Homo sapiens: one gene and its partners. The protein of the gene in region 3 purifies or fractionates together with the protein of the main gene of each other region. This does not show direct contact. Each region holds a gene or a part of one and is shown on either strand. Other genes may lie near its edges.

The links.
Region 1: the proteins of SUMF2 (region 3) and IDS purify together in Homo sapiens (co-immunoprecipitation; one study listed by IntAct). This does not show direct contact.
Region 2: the proteins of SUMF2 (region 3) and EDN3 purify together in Homo sapiens (co-immunoprecipitation; one large-scale study listed by IntAct). This does not show direct contact.
Region 4: the proteins of SUMF2 (region 3) and MSRB2 fractionate together in Homo sapiens (co-fractionation; one large-scale study listed by BioGRID). This does not show direct contact.

Annotation. Positions count from the first base shown.
Region 1 is NC_000023.11:149,487,613-149,495,244, reverse strand, and holds part of IDS (iduronate 2-sulfatase isoform a preproprotein), read left to right. Parts: intron 1-3,577; exon of another isoform or gene 3,578-3,707; intron 3,708-4,804; coding exon 4,805-4,931; intron 4,932-7,632. UniProt on the Homo sapiens protein: Lysosomal enzyme involved in the degradation pathway of dermatan sulfate and heparan sulfate.
Region 2 is NC_000020.11:59,304,436-59,312,830, reverse strand, and holds part of EDN3 (endothelin-3 isoform 1 preproprotein), read right to left. Parts: intron 1-8,395. UniProt on the Homo sapiens protein: Endothelins are endothelium-derived vasoconstrictor peptides.
Region 3 is NC_000007.14:56,070,786-56,074,285, forward strand, and holds part of SUMF2 (inactive C-alpha-formylglycine-generating enzyme 2 isoform b precursor), read left to right. Parts: intron 1-2,211; coding exon 2,212-2,326; intron 2,327-3,388; coding exon 3,389-3,433; intron 3,434-3,500. UniProt on the Homo sapiens protein: Lacks formylglycine generating activity and is unable to convert newly synthesized inactive sulfatases to their active form. Inhibits the activation of sulfatases by SUMF1.
Region 4 is NC_000010.11:23,113,882-23,122,276, reverse strand, and holds the end of MSRB2 (methionine-R-sulfoxide reductase B2, mitochondrial precursor), read right to left. Parts: intron 3,232-8,395; coding exon of another isoform or gene 3,102-3,231; exon of another isoform or gene 2,974-3,101; coding exon 2,826-2,973; intron 1,520-2,825; coding exon 1,415-1,519; 3' UTR 264-1,414; downstream 1-263. UniProt on the Homo sapiens protein: Methionine-sulfoxide reductase that specifically reduces methionine (R)-sulfoxide back to methionine.

The DNA of each region.
Region 1 (7,632 bases), on a different chromosome or scaffold from region 3:
CTGTTTGTTTTCTAATTTTGTGTTTCTGGGCTCCTGATGGTGAAGTGGCTTGAACTGGCTCTGAGGCTGCACCTGGATGCTTTATTAGTGATGGTCACTTAAAATGACCCTTCAAAATGGACTGTGTGCCAGGAAGGGCGCTGATTCATGTGTGGTATCGCCTTTAGTCCTCATGGGGACTTAGTGAGGTACCTGCTCTCTGTTGTCTAGGTGAGGAAACTCAAGGCATGGGAGGTGTGCTGACTTGTCTGACAGCACAAAATTAGTGCTGGGTGGAGCCAATTCATCCCCAGGGACTGTAACTCCAAAGCCCCATGGTTGGATCTGTTGGTTCCCAGCAGTGTGGGTTCGAATTCATGTTCTACCTCATACCAGCTGCCTAACCTCTGTCAAGTCATGTTACCTCCCTGAGCCTCCCTGAGTTTTCTTCTCTATAAAACTGAAACAAGGTAGGTAAAGTTTTTCCATGATAACACCTACTTTAGAGATTTTCAGCAAGAACCAAAGAGAGCATGTAGAAGTATCTAGGACCGTGTCGGCTGCACGGAGCTATCTCCTTCAAGTTCTCTTAGTCCCCTCCTTACACACAGTGGACAGCATGACTCAGAGGGCCTCCCTGATGCCTGCATGTGCTGGTCTCAGCCCTGTGTTCCCCTTGAACTCTGGCCTGCTCACTGTCCTCTTGTAGCTTTGGATGTCCGCATCCAAGCCCATCTCACTGCACCCTTGAGACTCAGCTCTGGGATCTCTTCAGCTCCAGCCCTCTAACTCAGCTCTACATGAGCCAGTGACCTCAGGGGCCACACTCAGGAGTTTGTTGCCTGCTCCTTCCGAGTCACCATACTGACCACAACCTCTTCTCCTAGCACTTCCCTTGCTCTACCTCACGGGGATTGCTAGAGTATGGATTTCTATCTCCCCCTTGTGTCCAGGTCCTGTTGGCTTTGTTGCTTCCCTAAATAGCTAAGGCCTGGTGGCAGGTGACTTACTGTACTTCCCAGCCGCCCAGCTCACCATACTTGTCCATTTATCCTTGCCCCTCCTGCAGTACCTTTATCGTCAGACACTCCAGCCACACCCTCTGCTCTGTAGTCCAAGTCCTGAAAGCTGCTGGAGAAAATCCATGCCCCCACGAAGCAGGGAGGCCCTCAGATGCCCCGCCTCCAGCCCCAGCAGCCCAGGCAAGCTCTCTGCTCAGCTCACCTCACTTGTCCTCTGCAGCTGCTCCGTTTGCATGACCTCTTCTCTACTCCCTTTCACTGCTCCCCTCCAGGCCTTTGCCACCCCTGTGCCCCATTTCTCAGTGGATAGCACCTTTCCTCTTGTAGAAATGGAAGCTGGTGGACAGCCAGAGGTAGGGGATCGGACAGGGTGGATGTGGGTACGCATCCTGGCTGTGCCCCTTATCAGCTGTGTGACTCTGGGCAAGTTAACCTTTCTGAGTCTTGGAGTCCTTAATGTGCCGTTCACAGGATCAGATGCCACCTAGTGTGTACTTGCTGAATGGGCTCTATTAATAATCTCTGTCACTGAGACCTGGAATTTTGTGTATGCATGTTCTGGGCTCGAGGCCTCTTCCCTCAACTCCCCACCACTGTCCCTGCTTCCCACGTCTGCAAGCAGAATGAGCAAGATCTTCCTTCTCACCTACCTACCCTGCAGCCTCTCCATCCACTCTCATCCCTCCCAGCTGCAAAAGTGCCAGCCCCCTTGCCCCTGCCTGTTTCTGCTTTCCACTCCTTCACCTGACCTCCAAGGCAGAGCGAGTGCACACTGGGCTGTTCTGGCTGTGTCTGTGGCCTCATTGTCCATTTGTTCTTCACCATCCTCTACACAGGCTTCCACCTCCCCAATCCACTAAACTCTCACCTCAGCACTGACCTTGGTGGCCAGTAAAATCTATCTGTGTAGGTCCTGACCTTCCTTGAGCTCTGTGTCACTTCCTCACTGTTGGCCAGCTCCACCCCTTCTGGGACTGTTGGCCTCCCAATCCTTTCTGTGTCTGCCACTTAGGTGCCACTTCCCAGGCCCCCCACTATATCCTTTCCACCTCTTCTTCCCCTGCTGGGCTCAGTTGAGCCTTGGCAGATGACTCCAGAACTACCCCTTCAGCCCAGGTCTCTCCTGATTTTCAGATATGTGTGTTGACCTGCCTGTGAGAGCCATTCCTAGGCAGATGACCCTGGAGACCTCAGCTCCATAGGCTTCCGCGTGGTCAGGCCACCACCCCTGCCCTGCCTTTTCTCCTTCCTCCTCCTCCTCTTGCGCCCCCTGCCCCCAAATGCCAGCGAATTATGCCACCAGCTGAATGTGAAACCTGGAGTCACCCTTGGGTTCCTCAACACCTCCTCCTCCTCTGCTCCCTGCCCCCATGTCTGCTTGATGCCCCTGAATTCCTCTCACATCCACACAGTCCTCTGGATCCTTCAGCACATTGTTCTGGACCACCTCAGTGGGCCTTGCTTTGTTTTGTTCATTCAGCAAGTGTAGTGAGCACCTCTTATGTACCCAGCAGTGGCCTAGTACCATTTTGTCTAAAGCCTCTGGAATCTGTGTCTGTGTCCTGTTGCAACAGGACTCTTAATAACTTGAAGCCCAGATCATGTCAATTTCTCGCCTTGAAAGACCTCAGTGACTCCATTGGCCTAGAACTTGGAGTCTCCACTCCCTGGATAGACCCACCAGGTCCATATTATCTGGCCCGGACCTAACTTTCTAGTCACCCCTCTGCCCTCCCATTTGATTCTCCAGTCACATGGGCCTTTCATTGGCCCCAAATGCAACCTGCTCTGTCACAACTCCACACTGTTCCGTGCCCTGCAGCCCCTGCTTGGAGCATCTGAGCCCCATTTGTCTGACTGCAGGTGCTTCTTGTCAAATTCTAACTCCTCTGTGAAGCCTTCCCTGAATCTCCCAGGCAGATTTGAGGGCTTATTCCCCTGTGTCACCCCTGGGCCTCTGTGGGGGATCGGTCAGAGTGGTGGGAAAAACTATAGGGAAAGGATGCAAACCTTCTGAAAGGTCAGAAGGTTCTGCAGAGCCCCAGGGGAGAATAGCTGTTCTATAACCCTGAGGCAGAGGGCAAGGAGTAGGTACAAGGGAGTGTGGGAGAATTTATCTTAAACAGGCTTGTTTACTTATGTTGACCAGGAACTGACCTTTGATCGTCTGTGCTTGTGAGGTTCCCTGAAAGGGGAACAATAAATGTTAATTACCTGCAGGTTGGCTCTAGGTTTTTGGCATTATGCCTGCACTGAATAAAAGCCAGCAGCTCCAGCTTCTCGGGGCTGCTCTCTGGCCACTAGAGCCAGGCAGTAACCTAGCTGCTCTTATGCTGCATACCTGTGTCTGAGTACTCATTTCATCCATAGGCCAGGGTCTGCAGGACAGACCCAGCAGGCCTCACTGATAATTAAGCATTTTCTTGTCTCCATGATTGTGTCCTCACTGGATGGGGTGGCTCATCAAGGGTGAGGACCTTGTCTGCTTATTGCCTTACGTCCAGGGGCTAGCATAGGAAGGAGGGAATACCTTTGTATAGGACATAGCCATCCTGACAGGTGTCTTTCATCCCCAGGAGGACCAAAGTTCCACAGGTTTCAGACTGAAGACTTCATCTACCAGAAAGTATAAGTAGGCCAGGGCTCAGCATAATCCTGCTGGAAGGCTAGATGTATATCTTTTCTCTTGACTGCAAGTGAGAACGGGTGAGTCTCATGATTGTCCTCACCCTGGCAGTGATGAGAAGAAGCTGGTGGGTCCAGCTGATAAGTCAGGGGCTGGTCTGCGAAGACACGGCTCTCTTCTCACCCCTCTTTGGGGTGGAAGATTAATTTTTGTCCTTAGCATTTGTGAACCAGGTTGGGAATGAGAGTCAGCCCAGGAGGGGCCGGTGGCTCATTTACTTCAGGGCATGATCTGGCTGTTCCCAAAGTGCCTCTTGGGTTCAGGGACTGTGAAGGACGTGCTGCTCTCTGGTATCTCCTTTGCTCTTCTCCTGCCTGCTGACAGTTTGTTAGAAATGAGCTCCACGTAACGGCCATAGTTCATGAAGATATGCAGTTGTAATCTGCTGTTGGGTTAGCAAGTGATCAGAGGGAAAGGCTCAGTCAGGGTTGCTGTTATGTGTTAAATTATGAATTTTTTTTTCCCTGAAAAGGGCTGTTGACATCCTAACCCCCCAGTACTGCTGAATGTAACCATATTTGGAAATAGGTTTATTGCAGATGTAATTAGTTAAGATCAGGTCATATTGGAGTAAGGTGGGCTCCTAATCCAATATGATCGGTGTCCTTTAAGAAGAGGGGAGAGAGACACGGGAAGAACACATGAAGATGGAGACACAGTGATACAGCTGCAAGCTGAGGAATGCCAGGGACTGACAGCCACCACCACCAGCTAGGGAGAGGCAAGATTCTTCTACTTAGAGCCTTCAGGGAGAGAATGGCCCTCCCAGCACCTTGATCTTGGACTTCTAGCCTCCAGAGCTAGGAGACAATACATTTCAGCTTAAAACAACAGAGCAGTAGGTGACACATTCATCCACTGTGATCTGTGCCCTAAAGTGAAATCTGATTTGCTTAGAAATGTATCTTATTTGTAGACCTACAGATTTTGCTGTGACTCTGTGGGTGAAGTGATGCTGATGGTAGGGAAAGGAGTGTTACATTTTGGCTGAGAAAATCATTAAGGGCATCAACTAAGGGGTAGGGATTGGGAGAGATGCACAGGCAAGCATTATCTCTGTATGCCTTGGCAATTTAAATTGCAGTCACTCTCATTTTTATTTTTTTTCAATTTGCAGCGGAAAATCCGCCAGAGCTACTTTGCCTCTGTGTCATATTTGGATACACAGGTCGGCCGCCTCTTGAGTGCTTTGGACGATCTTCAGCTGGCCAACAGCACCATCATTGCATTTACCTCGGATCATGGTAAGCATTTTGAAATTCCCTGGTGAGTCAAAACATCTGAACTTTCCTGTGAAACATGCTTTGCAAAATTGCCATTGACATAAACATGGGTGTGTTCTCTTTTGTGAACCAGTGGTTCACAAACAAAGTGGGATCCTGGGGCATTTTTATGATCAGCTTGTTAGTCCTGAGACCTCTGTCTTAGATGCTTGACGGATAGGTGTGGGTGGGTGGGGGAGGGTCTTGCAGCAACTTTTTTTTTTTTCTTGATGAATGCAGCAGGAACCCTCCATTTGTGTGGCAGAGCTCTTGTAACCCCCATTTTTAACCTGGAGGGTTGGAGGACTTTTAGTTTGGGTGGAGAGGATCCAGAACAATCCTGGCAGAGCCCAGCAAGCTCTTCACGCCTGGCTCCAGCCCTCCCACCCCTATCCCCGCTGTCTTCTCTGCCGAGAGCCTGGGCTTTTCAAGTCTTTATCTCCCCCTAAGGCTGTTTCCTACTTTTCCAAAAATGAAACTATCTTTTTAAAAGCATTTTTTAAATTCTTCAACATTCCAAGAGCAGGGAATAAAACAGCAGCTCCCCCCGTTTCCCACTCACATAGTCTTGTTCCTCTCATCCTCACCCACTCCCCCATCTCTGAATTGTTTCGAAGCAAATCCCAGATGGTTCCATTTTCCGATCACTGTCTCTGAAAAATATTGCCTCTTTTGAAGTATAACCATAATACTGTTATACTTAGAGAAAGGAAAATAATTTTCATATCATCAAATATGAAATAGGATAATAGTAAATCATAACATGTGCTTATCATGAAAAGAAAAAAGGATACAGAGCATGTAATTCAGGGCCAGAACATCCTGCCCTTTTCTCCCACCTGCTCAGGGCTAACAGATGACAATGGATTAGGGATCCATCTGCCAGCCATCAGTTGTGCACATATGCACACAGGGATATATGTTATACATGTGTATGTTTGTAACATGTATGTCACAAGATGTGATTGCTTGTTCTGTGTGTACTGTTAACGTTCCCTGGTTTTGTACACTTAATGTCATAGGCAATCTCTGTGTCATTTCTCAGAAGCCTACCTTTTCCCTTAGAAATGTCTGTAATATTTTATTATATATGGAGGTGCCATAATTTTTCACATATTCCTGATTATCTGCCATCTGCTTCTGAGCCCTCGGTGCCCAGTTTCCTCTTCTCCACGAACACACTCTGTTGTGAGGCAGTTGCCGTAGATTACAAATAGCCCATCTCAGAGTCCCCTCCTGGGACATCCTCCATCAGAACCGCCTGGGAGCCAGTAAAACATGCTGGTTTCTGCAACTGGTCTCAGGAGCTCGCAGTTCTGGGCATGGGAAAGTGCACTTTAACAGGTGTCTCAGGTGGTCTGGCCACCTCTCCCTGAGCTCATCATTCCCTGGGCCTCCCTATGTTGCCACGTCCTCATCTTGGGCCTCTGGGGCAGGAGCCAGAAACCTCCTGAGCTGCCTGTCAAGGTCATCGGGCTTGTTCCTCCTGATCTGGAGATGGATCCTTGGGGCCCACACAGGCACGCGTTCTCCTTAGCCAGACTTCCCCGTATTTGCTCCTGGCTGCAGCAGCACAGGCTGAGGCCCGGCACCAGATGTTCAATACGATCTTGCAGTCAGGCGGTCCACAGCTATTTCTGTAGCATTTGCCATGTGTCAGACCCTGTGCCAGGCCTGGGGGCCCCCTCTGCCTGGTGCAGGGCAGCTCACAAAAGCTGGCAGAGGCCGAAGGCTGCGTGCCAGTATTCAGAATGCCACAGAGCGCCTGGCTGCTGTACCTTCAGAGCCTCCACAGGCACCCCAGTCAGAGTTCCGGGAGTGGATTCCTGAGGTCGCACTGCCAGGTTCCCTCACGTTGCCATCCTGCAGGCTTCTCGATCCTTGACCTTTTAGATTCCCGCCACACTGAATCTAAAAGGGACAATGTGACCTCTAAGCTGGTGGCCTAGGAGCCTGCCGATAACCTACCCATTCATCAGCCCTCGTGGGTCAAGGCTGCCTCGTCCTCCCCGAGAGAGTGGAGAGGTCGAGCAGTGGGGATGCCCCTCAGGCCCCGGGGCTTACTGACTGGGGCGGGTGTCAGGGGGAACTCCCTCTCTTTCTGAGCTCCACTGAGCTATCTGAAAGTCCCCACCATACTCCCCAGTACTGACAGCCAGAGGGAGGAACGGCTCACCAGAATCATTGGGCATCTCTGATGGGCATCAAGTCTGCTTTGATTATTGATGAGTGGGTAAGAGGGTCCTCTCAACTTGGGGTCTCCTTGGGAAAGCACTGTCAACTCAGAACAGGTTTCAGCCCTGTTCTGGAGACCACAGGCCCTGGAAGGCTGGGACATCATTTGCAGCCCCAGCGTCATCTATTAGACGGAGCCAGCAAGGTCTCATGCTGTGCGGTACATTTCAACACTTTCTCAAATTTACCCGTGGCAGCTTTTGGTGTGTTTGGTTATTTTTATAACACTACTCACTGTACAATTTCTGTCATGCACATTTTTTGTATCAAAAAGGGTGCTGTAACTTTAAAAGACTGGGTATTTCCAACTTGGAATATTCAAACCATCTTTTGCAAGGGATGTTTTAAATAGGCATGAAGGGTTGTTTTTAATTGAGGTTAAGGATCTGAAATGAGAGGTTTTGGTTTACCCTATCTATGGTATGTCTTAAAAATCAACGAAGATGTC
Region 2 (8,395 bases), on a different chromosome or scaffold from region 3:
CTGGGTCTCTCCAGGGTCCCTCTGGCTCCAAACTCCACTCAGATGTTTCCAAAGGCCCTCACCATCCCTTGAACATCCTTAAATAGCACAATCACTGGAGAAGGCCTTAGACCTTTGCCCCAGCGCTAACACCAAACTCAAAGTGAGGTGCTCCACTCCACCCAAGATAAGTGGTTCCCAGGATCTCATCAACTGTATTTAGAAAGCCTTAGCCCAAACTGTTTACACTCTTCCATGGCCTATTACCATAAGGCTGAGATTAAAAAGAATCTCAAAGTCGCAGCATTTATCATCTCATCAGCTCATTGGACCATAGACCTATTCCTCCCCTAACACAGGCACCTGCACACTTAAGGATACTTGGAGGAAGCACCAGGGGGTCAAAGGAAAGGAGAACAACAGAAAAATACCTCTGGTTTTTGTTATGTGGTGCAGGATTTTCAAGACTTATGGCTAAAAAAAAAATTAGAGAAACAAACTCCTCCAAAACTTGGGGAATTAAGCCGTCTATGGAATCCTACAGATTAGCAGTTTCCCTCCATCTGGTACAACCAAAATGCATCAAACGAGTTAGGCTAGAGTTTCTCTCCCCAGCCCCCAGTGACCCTTCTGAATTCCAGGCCGAATGTAGGCATGAGAAATCCATGGCTGCCTGGCCCAGCCTCATTATAACTTTATGCAAAGCTGCAGACAGACAGGGCTCAAAATAGTTCCCAGCAGTGGAAAGAGAAGAGGGAAAACAGGGAGCAAGTATTTTCATAAGGATGGGGTTATGTGCAAAGGGATTAAAAAAAATGCCGACACCATGATACATGCTTTGAATAATTTAAAGAAAGCAAGAGAAGACACTCTTGCTAATTTTCAGGAGATACCAGGTTAAGGATGGAAAAGATCTTCATGAGCAAGACTTATGCTTACCATCACAATGACCGTAAAGATACGCTCATCTTCCACCTAACCTAATTGTCTGTGTCCTTGTGTAATGCCCTTTTGGTAGCTCTGTCAGAGGTGTTCGAACCAGAGCAACTCTATCTTGAATAGGGGCTGGGTAGAATGAGGCTGCATTGCCAGAAGGTGAGGCATTCTTACTCATTGGATGAGACGGGAGGTCCACACAAGACATTGCTCACAAAGACTCCCACTAATAAAACAGGACGTGGAAAAAAAAAAAAAACATGGCCAAAATCCACCAAAACCAAGATGGCAACCCAAGTGACCTTCTGTTGTCCTCACTGCTCATTATATGCTAATTATAATGCATTAGCCACTAAAAGACACTCCCACCAGCGCCATGACAGTTTACAAATGCCATGGCAACATCAGGAAGTCACCCTATATGGTCTAGGAAGGGGGAACCTCAGTTCCAGGAATTCATGAATAACCCACCCCTTGTTTAGCATAGGATCGAAAAATAACTGTAAGTATACTCAATCAAGCAGCCCATACCACTGCTCTATGGAGCAGCCATTCTTTTGTTTCTTTACTTCTCTAATACATTTGCTTTCGCTTTACTCTATGGACTTGCCTTGAATTCTTTCTTGCTCGAGGTGCAAGAACCCTCTCTTGGGGTCTGGATCGGGACCCCTTTCCAGTAATAGCTCCAATAGATTTATCACTTACCTCAAACTACTGAGTCTCTATTAGAGACACAGGCTTTATCCTCAAGCAAGATGCCAGGGCTGGGATTAGGGTGAGGCAGGTGAGGTAAGTGGAGCAAGCTCAGGGCTGGATCCTGCCTTTACTAAAAACAATATTTGGTCGATTATGAATTTTTTTTTGCACTCATTTTGGCTTTCTGAAAATAGTGCATTACATTTTACTTGTTTTTTCCTACTTTCTGGTGCCTCCTGAAAGTTTGTACATGAGGGAGTGCCTCACTCACCCCAGTCTATTCTCAGCCCTGCAAGAGACCCATGGAAATCAGATTCCTAAAAATCCAGAAAAGTTACATGGACCTCTGCTGTCTCATGTAGTTGCTTCTGACTCTCGGCAAAGCAATTTGCGCTCCCCAAGTTGTGGGGCGAAACTGTCCACCAGCGGGCCAGTCATGTTTTTGGTTGCGTCTGTCGGTACTTTTGTCATCAATGCATATGAAATGAAGCTGTTTCTGGTTTTTCAATTACTGGGCCAGGGACCAGGCCTCCCTGACTGTTCTGTTCCTGAGTTACTGTTTATTAAGAGCTCCCACCAAGTCTGCCCTGAGGAGGCCACAAAAGAAGAAGAGGCCAGTGCTTCCAAGCCTGTGAATGTCCCCAAGGTCTCCCAAAGCTCTTGGCCCTCCTAAGACTCTGAGGTGGGGCAGATGAGAAAGAGAGCTGATGCCTCATCCTGTCTGTCTATTCTTGGGAGGTTTGGTGGGTGAGCCAGGATTCCGAAGCCCCCAAAACTATGCGGACAAACAATTCATTCACATGTGGCTGTCTGTACTCAGCCATGCTCTGCAATTTATTTTCCGAGTGCAATTAATTTCTATTCCAAAGTGGGCAAAAGTCTGTGTGTATGTGTGTGTGCATTTCCAATTTTGAGGAACTCTGTTTCAACTGAAACATGACAAGGAAGGAGACCAGGTCACTTTCTCATGCAAAACAGAGACCATCCACTTCCAATACACTGGAACGCGGGGTGGTGCCGTAGACAGGGTCACCCTTTACAGCTCCCCCTCTGAGGTTTGGAACTGGAATTATAAAGCAGAAGCATTGTTTGCCTCCCAGCTTCCTTTGTTTTAAATTCTTGCAGGAACAAACATGACCAGACACATCAGAGCCTTTCATGTGCCTTCAGATTGAAGGCCAAGTTCCTCACTGTAATGGCCCTTTCATCTAGCACAAATCCAAATTCTCCCTCGGGGTCACACAGGGTCACAACCTCTTTGTACCAAGTTTTCTTGCTACAAATCAAACTGCCTTCCAGCCTCAAGTCCCTCTGTCTCCCAAGTGGAGATTAGTTGCATTCCACCAAGTCTGTTTTTGTTCCTGGACCACTCACACTTCCTGCTGACTCTGGGGCAGAAAACGGGCTTTCTACCTGTGCATCCCCAACAGAAAAGTCCTCGTAGGACTGACCTTTCCAACAAACTGCGAAACTTAGCCCTAAGTCTCCCCAATTTTAAAGAAGTATCTTGCCGTCCAGTGTTCTAAGAAATATGCCACTCCAACTCAAAACTGGTACCCAAAAGTGTGCTAATTTCTAAGGAAGAGATAGAAATGGTTATGTGAGGGGAAAAACCTCCTGAAACCATGATCAGTCAGAACCTCAAGCTCAGGGTCCCTTTTAATCTGGCCAACACCCTCTTCTTTCACATGCCCGTCTCAAAAGCACATCATGAAATGATGTTTTCTAAATAGATGTCTGTGGGATTTCCTCGATTGCTTCCTGGTGACTCCCAGTTGGTGACACCCACTTCAGGTCCTGGGCAATGCTGGGTGAAGTCAGAAGTGAGGCTACTGGTGCCCCATGGGGTCCTCAGCTGCAAATTACAAGGCATTATATCTACTCTGCTGGACGTACCAAGGACATGAGAGCCACAGATGCCTCACAGAGCTCTCAGCATAGGTGTTTAACAAAGAGGTAAACAGATCATTCCTGTTCTCCTGAACTGAGACCCTAATCACCCCAATCACCACCCCTACCTCCTATTTCACAGACACAGCCCCAGACGGGTGCCCGCAAAGAGCGCCATGCCCCATTACTGAAAACTTTCAGTGATTTACCAAGGGGAGAGGGAAGCAATAGAAAGCAGAAAGGAGGGGCTGGAAGGGCGGGACTGAATCTCAGCCCAGCCCAGCAACCTTTGACCACAGAGTCTTTATCAGGCTGCTTATCAGCAACAGCAGACAGCCAGGCACACCTTTTCCCAGAGTCTGTAAGCTTTCTGCTAATTGAGGCTAACAGACCGTCCTGCAGGGGACAGGGTGGACAGGTTTGCTCCGGGGCACTCCAGGAGCTAAGATCAGAGTCAGAAGGTCCAAAGAGGTGGACCCCAGCAGAACTTGAGCAAGGACTTTCTACTCACCAGCCAGCATCCTCCAATCACAGGATTGGATATGGCAGGAGGACTGGTTTTGGCCCAGGAAGGGCTTCTGCAGGGCTGGAGGTTGTGTTGTTATCATTGTGGCCACCATCTTCAAGACGTTGAGTGTTTACTAGATTGTAGGCGCTGTGCTAACCACGCCCTGTGTACTTTCTTGTGTCATCCTGAAAACATCTTTCCTCATAGAGTGCTATCTATTCCCCCACTCTCTAGATGGGGACACTGAAGGTCTCAGAGGTGACATCTCCTAAGTGGCAGATCCAGATTTCAGCCCAGGCATTCGAGCCCACAGTTTGAGCTCTTAACCCCTACAAAGGGATCTGTTCCTCCTCCACGTGACAATTTGGATGAGTGGGCCCCAGGCCCCATTCCTCTCTAAACCCCAGGAGTCTCTAAACCAAAGTGTGAAGCTGGATCTGCAAGAAGAGATGGATTTGAGCAGTCCCACCTCCTATGTCTGCCCTGCTCCCGTAACCACACCAAGAAGCAAGAAGACAGAACAAGGCACAGAGCAGCAGCCAAGAAAAGAAAAATCCTGCACCAGGAATGAGACTCATGGCCTGGGGGTCCCTCGCCCTCTCGCCTAGACTCAGCCCCCTCTGTCCCAGCATCTCTGACATCAGGACAAACCTTCTGGTTTGCTTGGAGTGCACACTCAACCAGCCCCTCTTACCCACAGAGAAACCACCAAGGGCTCTGGTAGGCTAAAGGAAAATCACATGCTTCTATGCAAGCCAAGGCTACATTTCCAGAATAAAATTTAGGACTTGTGATGGACCAAGGATTTGGGTTTTGCCCATGTGTTAACATATGTTAATAAAAATAATCTTGCAAAAGGGTAAATATATGATTACATAGAATTATATATATGAATCATCACTATCAAAAAGAACAAAACCCCAGCCCTAACAATGTAACAAGACCCGATCTCTACAAAAAAAAAAAAAAATTACTAAATTAGCTAGGCATGGTGACACGCACCTGTGGTTCCAGCTACTCGGGAGGCTGAGGTGGGAGATTCGATTGAGCCCAGGAGTTCAAAGTTGCAGTGACCTATGATTGCATCACTGCACTTCAGCCTGGGCGACAGAATGAGACACTGTCTCAAAAAGAACAAAACCACCCTTAATCAGTCACGGATGGGGAACCATGTCTTTTATTCATTCTTGGGTCCCAGAGCCCCATTCAATACTGACCCAGGTGAGGCACTCTGGGAAAACATATTAAATGAACGAAAGCAGGAGTCATCTAAGATGGCATATTAGTCACCTAAGAAGCCCATGTTGGGAACATGCACACAGGAGGAGGCTTACAGGGCAGGCTTCAGGGCCAAACTTCTGGGCTGGCAGCCCAGTCCCTACTCACAAGCTCTGCAACCTTGGCCAACTGACTCCGCCTCCTGGGCTCAGCTTCTTCCTGTAAACTACAGGGACAATAGCATCCAACTAATGGGGCTGTCAAGCTGATCCCATGAGATGACATGAGGTCACAGTCATGGTCAGCCATCCTCACCATCCATGATTAGTAGCAGACTATTCATGACCCCTTTCCAAAACCATGATGGCAGAAAGACTGGCCCTCTGCCTCATATGGCCACATGTCCAACAATGATACTGCCAGGTGTGGCTCACAGGTCAGGGTGACTTTTGTTTTTTTGAGATGGAATCTTGGTCTGTCACCCAGGCTGGAGTGCAGTGGCGTGATCTCTGCTCACTGCAACCTCCACCTCCTGGGTTCAAGTGATTCTCCTGCTTCAGCCTCTCCAGTAGCTGGGACTACAGGCACATGCCACCATGCCTGGCTATTTTTTGTATTTTTAGTACAGACGGGGTTTCACCATGTTGGCCAGGCTCATCTCAAACTCCTGACTTCAAGTGATCTGCCCACCTCAGCCTCCCAAAGTGTTGGGTTTATAGGTGTGAGCCACCGCGCCTGGCCCAGGGTGACTTTTATCGGGATCCCAAAATCACATTCTGGTGCTCAGCTGGCTCCTCATGTGCAGGAAGTTGGGGTTCCAGATCCAACCGTTCTATTGGGATGTTCTAAAATTTGGAATATCTCTTCTTGAGACCATGCCAAGATGCCTTTCTTGAAGAACACAGAAGGCAAAGCCAGAATCTGTGATGCTGCCCTTTTGTGGTAGAATACATTAAAATACAAGTTTAAATGTTTTGTTAATGCTTTTTTTTTTTTTTTTTTTTTTTTACTCTTTATGCATTTAGGGGAGAAAAAAACTCAAAAGAAATGGCATTCCTGCTGGATTAAGTTTAGTGTGGCTTGATCCAGGGCAGCCTGGGAAGCCGGCCTGGGCATCTTGATAGGAGCTGATCAGACTGTTGGGATTAGGAGAGACTTGGCAGCTCACTGTCCTGGAGCGGCTGATGTCTGCACCTTCCAGAGGGTCACAGAGAGGCAACAGCACCTCCTGGCTCAAGGCCACACAGATAGTCATGGCCAGGACTCAAGGGCAGCACTTCTGGGTTCTGGAGTCTTCTCCACAAGTCGGGACTGCAAATCCCAAATTTTCCACCATGATCATGATTCCCAACATCCTGCCCTGTTCTTTTCATAACTACATTCCTATCTGCCAGCCCATGTGTGTCAGATTTTGGTTTGGAAAACACAGTCACCATCCAGCATCACAATGCCTCCCTCAGATGTCCTTAGAGGGATGAACAGATGGCAGGATCCCTCAGCTCATGGGGCGGGGAGGAGCACAGTGGGGCTCTTTGCTGGGTGCTTCACAGCTCAGTCAGCCATTGGATAAACAGGTTTTCAGTCTTCAGCCAGGCTCTGAGGGGCTGGTCCGCCATGAAATGTGGTTCGAGCTGACATCCCCGTTATGGGTCACTTTAGGTGTCAACTTGGCTAGGATACTGTGCCCAGTTGTTTAGTCAAACAGCAGCCTAGATGTTGCCCTGAAGGTATTTTTGATATGTGATTAACATTTAAATCAGTAGACTTTGAGCAAAGCAGCTGACCCTCCAAAATGTAGTGGGCCTCATCCAATCTGTTGAGGGCCTTCACAGAAAAGACAGGTTCCCGAACAGAAAAGAATTCTGCTTCCAGACCTCCTTGACATCAACTCCCTCGGGAATTTTCAGCCTGGTGGCATGCAGATTTCTGGCCTGCCAGCCCCCACAATCATGTAAGCCAAATTCTGAAAATTGCTCTTTGTCTCTCTCCATATATATATCTCTGGAGGGACATTGCCCATAACTTCTGTTTATCCTCCATAAAAGTCCATGGCCCCCAAGAGCAACCAAATATTTCCTTTGGCAACCGCACTTCTGATATATGCATAATCTGCAGACATGCACACACCCTGTTGGTTCTGTCTCTCTAGAGAACCCTGACTCCTACAGGCCCCAGCTACCTGGTATCTGTTTCTTCAGTCTGCTCATAGAGGACAGCCGCAGTGTACAAGGACATCAGCACACGGACCCCTTGTTCACCACCTGTCCCCTTACTATCTTATTCTTGGCAACTTATCCATGACAATAGGATGGGATATGTTTTTCTCTGATTTGGGACTTTGATTTTGTTGGCAGTGGTGGGATGGCTTGGGGACTGTGGGGGACAGCCAAGGAAAGGCTAATGGAAATCATGCTATCCCATTGATGAACTGTGATCCCAGCAGCCTTGACAGGGTAAGTATAAATTTGGTTCCTCTTTGGGGCGATGGACTTTTGGGAAGATATCACAGAAGTTATGGGCAACATCCCCAAGAAAAACTCTCTTGCCCACCCCTGTCTACAGGGATGTGCAGGCCCCTGAAGAGCAGCCAGGCACCTGGAGAAAGAGGCCTCCTGTGTGGGAGAAGGCACTGGAGATTTAGGGGCTCAGCAACAGCAAAGATGAGCCAGAGTACCCAGGTGGCAGGACTTAGCCAAAAGTCAACCAGCATTTCCTGAGCATCCATGCCATGCTGGGTGCTAACAGAAAGGGCCGACCAAGCTCGGGTCTGGAAGGACTAAGGAGGGGAAAAAAGCAGGAGGGCTAAAGGGACAGCCGAGGAATCTCAGACCTTCTTTCCAAAAGAGACTTAAGAGACCAACTAGTCTCTTGAGCCTGAACTAGACAGTTAACTTCCCTTGAGGAGATGCAAAGCGGGTCTCGGTAGTAACTCCCAATATGACTCCTGCAGCATCTCAGATCCTCGAAGGGAGCAAAAATGACCGTACTCAGAGCAATTTCCATCAAAGATCAACTAGGAGTGTTGATTCTGTCTTCACGCAGCTGGATGCGCCATGGGAGGAAAGGCTCTGAAAGGTGAAAAGCACCCAAAGTTCAAGACCCCTGACTGAGGCACAAGAATCAAGGCTCCTTCTCGTGCCCAGAACAGCTGCCGCTGGGACAGGGAGA
Region 3 (3,500 bases):
TGGTATGTCCATACAATAAGATACTACTCATCGATAAAAAGGGACAGACTACTAATGGCAACAACATGGATGAATCTCAGAAGCCTTTTGCTAAGTGAAGGAAACCTCCGCCAGACCCAGAAGACTACATACTGTATGATTCAAGTTATATGGTGTTCTGGGAAAGGCAAAACTATAGGGACAAAAAAACCTGGTCCGTGGTTGGTGAGTTGCAGGGAAATTTTTTTGGAGGTGACCGATGGAACTATTCTGTATCTTGATTATTGTAGTGACTATATGCTTTGTCAAACTCACAGAACTGCTGAGCACAGTGGCTCATGCCTGTAGTCCCAACACTTTGGGAGTCCGAGGTGTGTGGATCACTTGAGCTCAGAATTTTTAGACCAGCCTGGGCAACATAGTGAGACCCCATCTCTACAAAATTAGCTAGGCATGGTGGCATGCACCTGTAGTCACAGCTACTTGGGAGGCTGAGGAGGGAAAATTGCTTGGGCCCAGGAGGTCAAGGCTGCAGTGAGCTGTGATTATGCCACTGCACTGCAGTCTGGGTGACAGAGTGAGACCCAGTCTCAAAATATAAATAATTAAAATAAATCAGGAGGCTGAGGCACGAGAATCTCTTGAACCCAGGAGGTCGATGCTACAGTAAGCCATGATTGTGCCACTGCACTCCAGCCTGGGTGACAGAGTGAGACCTGGTGTCAAAAAAATAAATGATTGGTTGGGCGCAGTGGCTCACACCTGTAATCCCAGCACTTTGGGAGGCTGAGGCAGGCAGATCACAAGGTCAGGAGTTCAAGACCAACCTGACCAACATGGTGAAACCCCATCACTACTAAAAATACAAAAATTAGCCGGGTGTGCTGGCATACACCTGTAATCCCAGCTACTCAGGAGGCTGAGGCAAGATTATCGCTTGAACCCAGGAGGTAGAGGTTGCAGTGAGCTGAGTTCATGCCACTGCACTCAAGCCTGGGCCATAGAGTGAGACTCCGTCTAAAAATAAATAAATAAATAAATAAATAAATAATTAAATAAAAAATAATTTGGGCACAGTGGCTCATGCCTGCAATCCCAGCACTTTGGGAGGCCGAGGCGGGCAGATCATGAAGTCAGGAGTTTGAGACCAGCCTGGCCAACATGGTGAAACCCGTCTCTACTAAAAAGACAAAAATTAGTGGGCATGGTGGTGTGCACCTGTAATCCCAGCTACTGGGGAAGCTGAGGCAAGAGAATCGCTTGAACCCAGGAGGTGGAGGTTGCAGTGAGCTGAGATTGCACCACTGCACTCCAGCCTGGGCAACAGTCTTTTTGAGACAGAGCAAGACTCTGTCTCAAAAAAAAAAAAAAAAAATATTGGCCAAGTGTTGTGCCTCACACCTGTAATCCCAACACTTTGGGAGGCCACTTTGGGTGGATCACCTGAAGTTAGGAGTTCGAGACCAGCCTGGCTAACATTGCGAAACCCTATCTTTACAAAAAATACAAAAATTAGCTGGGCGTGGTGGTATACGTCTGTAATCCCAGCTACTTAAGAGACTGAGGCTAGAGAATCACTTGAACCTGGGAGGTGGAGGTTGCAGTGAGCTGAGATTGTGTCACTGCACTCCAGCCTGGGCAACAGAGTGAGACTTTGTCTCAAAAAAATAAATAAATAGGACAGGTGTGGTGGCTCACGCCTGTAATCTCAGCCCTTTGGGAGGCCGAGGCAGGTGGATCACTAGGTCAGGAGTTCGAGACCAGCCTGGCCAACATGGTGAAACCCTGTCACTACTAAAAATACAAAAATTACCTGGGCGTGGTGGCAGACGCCTGTAATCCCAGCTACTTGGGAGGCTGAGGCAGGAGAATGGCGTGAAACCGGGAGGCGGAGCTTGCAGTGAGCCGAGATCACACCATTGCACTCCAGCCTGGGCGACAGAGTGAGACTCCATCTCTAAATAAATACACAAATAAACAAACAAATAAAATAAAAAATTAATTAACCTCACAGAACTAAACACTGAAGAGAGTGAATTTTACTGTATGTGAATTCGTTGTATTCTAATTTAAAAGAAAATCACTCAGGCTTCAGGTTAATTCCTTGGCAATCATGAACACTCTGTGGTGTATAACTTACAGGACAGGGATATCTGAAGTTTCCTGGAGCAGGAGAAGATGGGGTGGGCACAGAACCTCACCAGCTGAACCAGCTGAACTATGTCTTTATAGGGATTTTGTCAGGGAGAAAAAGTATCGGACAGAAGCTGAGATGTTTGGATGGAGCTTTGTCTTTGAGGACTTTGTCTCTGATGAGCTGAGAAACAAAGCCACCCAGCCAATGAAGGTGAGAGAACCTGGTCTTGCAGCTGAGGGGATAGGAGTGGGACCTGGACAGGGAATCCTGTGGGACATGGGTTACCTGGGACACAGTGGAGAATCAGACCTGAGAGGTGGAGGCAGAGGGGAAGCAAGAGAAACTCACCATGGAGCGTCAGATCAGTACACACTCCCAGGAAGTTAACCCTGAACCCAAGTTAGCTCTTGCCTAAATGTCCAAGTCAGGATAGGATCCAAGGAACTTGAATCAAGAGATCACCTTGGTGGGCCGAGCGTGGTGTCTCATGCCTATAATCTCAGCACTTTGAGAGGCTGAGGTGAGTGGATCACCTGAGGTCAGGAGTTCAAGACCAACATGGCGAAACCCCGTCTATACTAAAAATACAAAAATTAGACAGGCATGGTGGCACGCTCCTGTAATCTGAGCTACTCAGGAGGCTGAGGCATGAGAATCGCTTGAACCTGGAAGGCAGAGGTTGCAGTGAGCCGAGATGGCGCCACTGCACTCCAGCCTGGGTGACAGAGTGAGACTGTGTCTCAAAAGAAAAAAAAAAAGAGAGATCACCTTGGCAAGCCAACCTCTAATAAGGGTGGTAAGATGGGCTCTATAAAGATTCCAGTCTCAGCTGGGCGCAGCAGCTCACGCCTGTAACCCCAGCACTTTGGGAGGCCGAGGTGGGACAATTGCTTGAGCCCAAGAATTCAAGACCAGCCTGGGCAACATAGATCCCATATCTACAAAAAAAAGAAAAAAAAGAAAATTAGCTGGGCATGGTCATGCACACCTGTAGTCCCAGCTACTCAGGAGGTTGAGGTGGGAGGATTACCTGAGTCCAGGAGGTTGAGACTGCAGTGAGCTCTGATGGTGCCACTGCACTCTAGCCTGAGTGACAGAGCAAGATCTTGTCTCAAAAAAAAAAAAAAAAAAAAAAAAAAAAAATCAGCCACAACCTCACTTAGACCACCTGAGTCTCAGCCTGACGTCTCTGTTCTGCGTCCTGTGGCTCAGTCGGGGAGGTGCCTTTGCTGGGCCGGAGCATCTTGCAGTCGGTCTCCTTCTTTTTCGCAGTCTGTACTCTGGTGGCTTCCAGTGGAAAAGGCATTTTGGAGGCAGGTAAGGGCTGATTCCGCTACCTCATTTTCTACCCCTGCTTGACTCTTATTCTCCAGGCCCAGCCTCC
Region 4 (8,395 bases), on a different chromosome or scaffold from region 3:
CTCCTGGGTTCAAGCAATTCTCCTGCCTCAGCCTCCCAAGTAGCTGGGATTACAGGCATGTGCCACCATGCCCGGCTAACTTGGTATTTTTAGTAGAGATGGAGTTTCTCCATGTTTGTCAGGCTGGTCTCAAACTCCTGACCTCAGGTGATCCGCCTGCCTTGGCCTCCCAAAGTGCTGGGATTGCAGGTGTGAGCCACCACGCCTGGCTAGAGTTTTTTTTATAAAAGAGCATGTTCATTGACTTAGCCAAAAAGCAAACATAAATTTTAGTGAATATTTTATTTGGACATTTTAAAGTTTAGCTTTGTAACCAGAAGGTATGAAGGTGAACATTTATTCATAATCATTGAAATCTAACCAAGTCCTATTGCAGTTTATTTGTGGGTAGAATGGTTGGAAGTAGCATGCTCAAGACATTTAAAATTTTGAAAAAAAAGTCATGCATCTGATTGATCACCATATATGCTCCCAGAGCACAGCTCCTCCGTAATCCTGCTCTTCAGTGCTAGCATTGTTGATTCCTTGGATCCTGTATTTTCCTTCCTCTTCTCACTTGATCCCTTACTTATGTCTGTCAAGGACTGAAACGCAGTGGAAGGTGCAGGGAATTTTTGTAGGAATTGTTTGGCTTAATAGTCCATCAGCCTCCTGATGTTCCCAGAGTCATGCCCTCGTCTCAGGTGAAGCTGTGGAAGTGTTTGATGGAAACAGCTGTCCCTCTGTCGTTTTGTGAAGTTCTACTCCAAGTGGGAGTTGGGTGATATGGTTTGGATGTTTTCCCTCTCCAAATCTTATGTTGAAGTATAATTCCTAGTGCCGGAGGTGGGCCCTGCCGGGAGGTAACTGGGTCATGAGGGTGGATCCCTCATGGCTTGGTGCTGTCCTGGTGACAGTGAGTGAGTTCTTGAGAGATCTGGCTGTTTAAAAGTATGTGGCACCTCCCTACCACTCTCTCTTGCTCCTGCTTTGCCATGTGAGACGCCGGCTCCCCCTTCACCTTCTGCCATGAGTAAAAGCTCCCTCAGGTCTCCCCAGAATCCGAGCAAATGCTGGCACCATGCTTTCTGTACACCCTGCAGAACTGTGAGTCAATTAAACCTCTTTTCTTTATAAGTTACTCAGTCTCAGGTATTTTTTTTTCTTTTTAATTTTGTTTATTTTTCTAGTTTTTCTTTTTTTTTCAAATTCTCCCAGATCCTGATCAGGTACTTCTTTATAGCAACACAAGAACAGCCTAACACACAGGATTAAGTTGATTCCAGGTAAATAAATTAAGAGAAGCAATGACTCGCTGGAGACAGCAGCAAATTCAGCCCAGTTTTATTGCAAATAAAACAAGTCATTCAAGTGAATTGTGGAAATTGAGGGTGCACGTGAAGGGGTGGCAAGGGAACGGGACTCTTGAAGATGGTCAGTGTTTCCTTGGTTTGAACTTCAAAGCCACACTGTTGATGCAAAACCTCTGACCATTGGGCCCAGGTCCATCAGGAAACACGTGACCTAGATGAGCTTCACACTGCAAAGGACAGAAGCCTCTGTCATCTCCAAATGCAAACAAAGCTCTTTATGTAAAACCAGACAGACGAACCCCCCCAAAATCACTCCACTCCGGAGTCTGACATCTGTGTTAGGAGAAAAAGTCTATTGCATCCGAATTCAATTAAGAAATGAAAGAAAGCAGAACACAGTCATGGTAAATAGTTTTACTTTATCAATAGGATGTGAGCAAGTTATTAAATTTGGGCCTTTACAGTTACTCATCTAAAAATGGGGATAATTATCATACCTACATAAGAGAGCTGTGGGGACAATTAATTGATATATTACATGTAAAGCATTAACATAATTCCTGGGTAAGTACTGAATAATATTGTAGTACCCAGTGTATTATTATTATTTATTACTTAAGGCAAAACCACGCTATCTTAATCAGCTTGCCTCTAATGTTTTACAAAACCCATGAGTCAGAAAATGTGAGCAGCTAAGGATATCAAAATGAATTTGTGATCTGGATTTAAGCCACTCTCTCCTACGGGGCTCACAGAAGGCAGAGGTGCTGACGTCACCCGCAGCATTGCTCTGCAGGCCAGTGACACGCTGCAGGGTGCAAAAGGAGGGTGGAGAGATGGAGGTGCCAGTCACACTGGGTAAGTCAAAGATGAGATGCCAGTCACTCTGACAGGATAAGGACTTCCTGCTCCTTATCCCTGCTCAAAAGAAGGTGAAGATCCTACCTCTGTTCTCATCTCTGTGGAAGGTTAGAACCAGGAAAGGCCACATTAGAGAGAGGCTGGAGAAGACTTTTCTCTTTTTTGCAGTGCCCAGATTGAAGGGAGAGAGTGATCGTTATTGGCATGTGTAGAAACCCCATGTGTTCTGGGCTGGGTGTGGTGGCCCACGCCTGTAATCCCAGCACTTTGGGAGGCCGAGGCAGGTGGATCACTTGCGGTCAGGAGTTTGAGACCAGCCTGGCCAACATGGCGAAACCTCATCTCTACTAAAAATACAAAAATTCACTGGGTGTGGTGGCAGGCACCTGTAATCCCAACTACTCGGGAGGCTGAGGCACTTGAACTCAGGAGGTGGAGGCTGCAGTGAGCTGAGATCATGCCACTGCACTCCAGCCTGCAAAACAGAGCGAGACTGTCTCAAAACAAAACAAAACAAAACAAAACAAAGCAAAACAAAAAAGAAACCCCATGTGTTCTGAAGACAAAAGAAAGTACCCCTATAAAAGGACACCAGATTTGCCAAGAACAAGAGAGCTCTTTGTGGCATTGGGGGCAGCATCAGGGAAAGTAAAACAAAATGAGAAACCTCACCTGCTTGCAGACAACCTCTGTGCGAGCTGATCCTAACGAGGTATCCAGACGTCTCAGGATCCCTGTGTGGCTTTCATCAGAGCCAGACGTACCATGAGCCTCGGAAAACGAAGGCCACCCAGTGCCAGAGCAGTACTTTTTCTCAGAACTGTGGAAGACATAAACGATACTACAGCTGCTAATGACACTGTCATTAACATGCCAAGAGGTGCCCCGATGTGTTGTTCCAGGCAGCAGGATCTGTTCCCACTCTCCTCTGCCAGATCCCATGCCCAGTTATTCGACAGTCAGTCCCCCCGGAATCGTCCTCACTGCACCTTCACTATCGAAGCCATTGCCTCTCGAAGTGGAAGGACTTCTTGATCCTTTGATGCTAAAGACTTCTTTCTGGATATCCAACAAGGATCTAAAAACACATGGTGTTTTGTGAACTGTGTTGCATATTAGGTAACACAGATCAAACCCATGTGTTGAAAATGTCAAAAGGGGAGAAATCAAAACGAAATACTAATGCTCGGAGGAAGTCATCATCATCTTAGAGCAGCGCAGAAGTGTAAGGTCTGATGAGAAAGTCATGCTTGGCAACAGGAATTTCAGGTTATCTCAACACAGACGCCTGACCAGGGATTCAAAAGCTGCCTCTGGCCACTTCTTAGCTGTGTGAAACCACAGCTCTTGAAGCCTCAGTTTGCTCACCTAGCAAATGGGAATAATATCTACCCTACAGGGCTGTTTTGAGGATTTGAGGGGAAACTGAAGTGTGACATAAAGCTTAGCACGGTGCTGGGCACATGGTAAGTTCCCTGAATGCTTGCTGTGATGGTGATGATTAGTATTAATTAATACGCCTGGGTACCTGGCATCAATCACTGCAGTGAAACCTAACCCTCCAGAAGTCTCCCAGGGACTCATGATGCTGGCACAAGGAGAAGGACAGCAGGCAAATCCACTCACCAAAGACCCACCCTCTAAGTGCTCTCATGGATAAGCTCCCTTAAATGGCACTGGGAAAATAGACTTCAAAAATTGCTGTGGCAAGGAAATGGCTCTCTCTATCTAAGGAAGAAAGAGAAGAACTGAATGTTAGACCCAGCCAAAAAAAAAAAAAAAAAAACAAAAAACTAATCTAAGAAGAAAAAGTAGCAAAGAATCAAATCCCTAGACTATGAACACAGAAGGAAGCCTAGCTGGCAGCACAAACTCCCACAGAAACAATTGTGTAATGCAGCAATTCTCAAACATTTTGGTCTCGGCACCCCTCATGTCCCCTCTGTGTCCCCAAAATTAATAGGGATTGCTGAGAGCTTTTGTCTGTGAGTTACGTATGTCAACATTTAACAAATTATACATTATAAATGAGAATTTAAAAATATGTGTGCATTAATTTTTTTTTAATATAGGTTGAGTGCCCCTTATCTGAAATGCTTAGGACCAGAAGTGTTTCGGATTTCAGATCTTTTTGAATTTTGCATTTTACTTGATGGCTAAGCATCCTTAATCTGCAATACTCCAGTGAGCATTTCCTTTGACTAGCATGTTGGTTCTCAAAAAGTTTCGAATTTTGCTGGCGTGGTGGCCCACGCCTATAATCCCAGCTTTTTAGGAGGTGGAAGCGGGTGGATCACTTGAGCTCAGGAGTTCGAGACCAGCCTGGCCAACATGGTGAAACCCCCTCTCTACTAAAAATAGAAAAACTAGCTGGGCATGGTGGTGCATGCCTGTAGTCCTAGCTACTTGGGAGGCTGAGGCAGGAGAATAACTTGACCCCAGGAAGCAGTGGTTGCAGTGAGTGGAGATCAGTCAACAGAGCGAGACTCTGTCTCAAAAAATAAAAAAGTTTCAGATTTGGGTGCATTTCAGATTTCGAATTTTCAGAGTAGAGATGCTCAACCTGAAATAAATTTATTATATGTTAACATAACATATATTTAAGGCAAATAATTATACTTTTCAAAATGAAACAAACATTTCATGAGAAGAGTTGCACTGTTTTACAATTTTGCAAGGCTCTTTAACATCCGGCTTAAAAAAAAGACAACTGAATCTTCATATGTGCCTCTGAATTCAGTCTGTTGCTATGTTGTTTTGATTGGAGTATAAGAGGATGTGGCCTCAAGTGGTCTCAAGTGTGGTTGGAAAAGCCCCTAGAAAGGTCCCCCCCAGGAATCTCTGGGGTCCTCAGACCAGGCTTTAAGAACCACAGGTATAGCCATTAGAGGAAGGGCTTTGACTTCTGAAAGATTTGTGTGTGAATCTGGGATCTGTCTGTTACATCTGTATCACCTTGGCAAGTCATTTAATTTTTTGAAGCCTCAGCATCCTAGTCTATAGATAAGTATAAACTAAAAATAAAGTTCTAAGCCACCCACTGACTGAATAGAGCCCTTCTTGGCCAAGAGGACTCCAGAAAAACCTTTAAATCGAGTTTCCGGTCATGATGGGACAGGAGGTCAGACACACCTCATTATACCCTCTCCCTTTTGTGGTTTAGACACAACAAATGACCAGCATTAATGTTTAAATAGAGATCATAAGACTGGCAGAACAGCCTCTTTGTGGCAATAATATACCAAATTATAAACAGGACCTAAGGCCATGCCAGGCGAGGGTGAAGTCATGCACCCCTACACTTAAAGAATCAACTCTAACTGCCACAGGGGTTTTCTTCTTCTCTAGCAGCTAAACAATCACTGGCCTTGAGATAAGCAGTGTTGAAGCAATTGCAGCTCATCTACCATCAGACACTGACTAGCTGAGACCCTCTGTTCCACCAGCCGTAACTACAGCTTTGATTGCACAAGAGACTGATTTTAGTAACTTTCTCCTGATTAAAAGACCATGAAGTGGTTCTGGATGGTTTACAGAGGCTGTGCACTTGTGGGCCTTCATATCCTGAAAGACCTTTTGATGTATAGGATCTAATTATAATACATTTAAATGTTAAGTTTCTACCCCCAAATAAACATAGGTCATATGTTACATGCATGTTTGTTCAATATGTGTATGTCAGGACCATCTTCACAAATTTTCATAGCCCCTTCTGTGATCTGTTAAATAGGTATATTTAGCCAACCCTCTCAGCATAAAGCTCCTACCCCAGCTGCTCCCCCTTCCAAGTGCCTGCATCTGCTCTTGGCTGGGAGCTCGCTTCCCAGCCTGTAGGATGGCCACCTTGAAGGCTGTAACCCTTTAGAAGAAATAAAGTCTCCTTTTCTAAATTTATAGATTGTATGATTGTTTTAAGCTAACAATAGCAATGGCATTATCACCTCACTTTCTGTGTGTGTGCTTAGCATAGTACCTGACACATGGCACTTGAGTTGGTAGCTATTTTTTAATATTTTTTTATTATTAATACCAGAAATCTATGGAATGTGAGCAGTTGTGGGTCCAACTAGAAATGTCTGCATATTCAGGTCGGATTCTTTGCAACCCTCCTCCAGGGGTTCAAAAACATTCATCTGGCCACTCTGCTCAGGGAAAAACATCATTAAGTATCTTTTAATCCCAGTCTTTCCATCCTCAACATTATATATCAACTAGTGATCATTAAAGGTATTTTGATTGAGAATTATGAATACAATAAAATTTTTTAAATAAATGAAACTAAGGCTAATAAAAACTCATTAAAGCATTTTATGGGAAACAATAAACCTTTATTGATGCAATTAGCAGAATCGGGAGATTTTTACCAAGTAATATGAGAGGCCTAACATATATAAGTTAAGACTGGGAACCAAAATATTAAAGCCAATCAGAAATTCCAATATACATATTTAAGTGATTAGCAGATTGTAAGGTTTGCCCTTGAAGAACTAAAACCATTCTGAATCATATACTCTAAGGGATTTTTACTTTGTTTCGTTTTATTTGCTTTGGTTTTCCTTGATTTCTGGAAGTTCTACAGGTCCCAAACCAACAGCACAGGCACTTGGTGATAACTGACAACCCTAACCTCTTAGAAGAATTTCTATTCCTTTGAGGGAATGGGGCATACAGAAGGTTTTTAACAATATTACTTAGTTACTCATGGTACATACGACATCAGGATATTACGTAAAAGGTGAACTAGTATCAGGCTCTGTTTCCTCTTATTTTAAGAAGATTTGTGATCATGAAATATGTGATCCCACAATAGATTTTAATAAACACATTCCAAATAGGCTCATGTAGAAGAAGAAAGGGAGAAGGAGGAGAGGAAGTGGCAGTGATGGGCAATGTCACTTCATTCCGAGTTAAGGAAAGAGAGTCTGGAGTCCCTAGGAGTGTGACAACACATTCTGGAAAGTGTTCTTGACCCAGACACCTTTGATTAAAGGTGTCTGATTTGGAGAGGCAGAAGCTCTCCAAAACTGTGCACCAAACTCATTCCAACAATTATAGGATGATGAGGAGAATGACGCTAAGTCTGGTGGATGAGGCTGGGAACAAGGCTCTGGAAAGGGAACTCATGAGTTACACTGGCTGGGATCACTCTCAGAGGCTGGTTATGTCTTCTGGGAAACTTACACCTGTAATAAGGAAAGCAGGCACCAAAAGGCGATGGCACCTATGTCAACGGAGCTGCCCGTGTGGCTTAATGGAAGCTCAGCTAGTGAAGAATGTGGGCTCTGGAGTCCAAAACTGTGGGTTCATATTTTGGCTGGCTACCTGTAAGCTGCAGAACCCTGGACAAGTTATTTCATCTTCCTAGCTCTCAGTTTCCTCACGTGAAATGAGAATGATAATAACACTACGGGGAGCTGCCGAGAGGTCTGACGAAACGATGCACATGAAGAGCCTGGGCATGGCACCTGCCGCGTGCCCAGAGGGCTCCTTCATTGCTGGGGTGCTTCCCACTCTCAAGAAGAGTGCAGTGGAGCCCAAATCCCTGCACTATCACTTACTAGACAAGTGACCTGGAACAAGTTAGTTAAATTCTTTAAGCCTCAGTTTTCACATCTGTTAAGTGAGGGTCTTAATAGCTCCTTATTGGAGGGTGAGGATTGTTTGCAAAGTACTAGAGCCCAGTGTCTGGCATGTAAGTGCTCAAGAAGTTGCAGCCACTTCCCTCACATTTTCACAGTGATTTCATAATCACAGCTTTTTTTTTTTTTTTTTTTGAGATGGAGTCTCACTCTGTCACTCAGGCTGGAGTGCAGTGGCTCAATCTCAGCTCAATGAAACCTCTACCTCCTGGGTTCAAGCAATTCTCCTACCTCAGCCTCCTTAGTAGCTGGGATTACAGGCATGTGCTACCACGCCCAACTAGTTTTTGTATTTTTAGTAGAGACAGGATTTTGCTATACTGGTCAGGCTGGTCTCGAACTCCTGACCTGCAGTGATCCACCCGCCTTGGCCTCCCAAAGTGCTGGGATTACAGGCATGAGTCACCACGTTCAGCCCGTAACCACAGCTTCTGATAGTCCCAACATTGCTATGATGTCTAAGCAGCAGGATGGATATTATTAATCAACCAATCAATACGTACTTATGGAGCATCTAAGTATTAGTTTCCAAGGTGGCTGTAACAAAGTACCACAAAATGGGTGGTACTCTCTCACAATCTTGAAGATAGAAGTCCAAAGTCA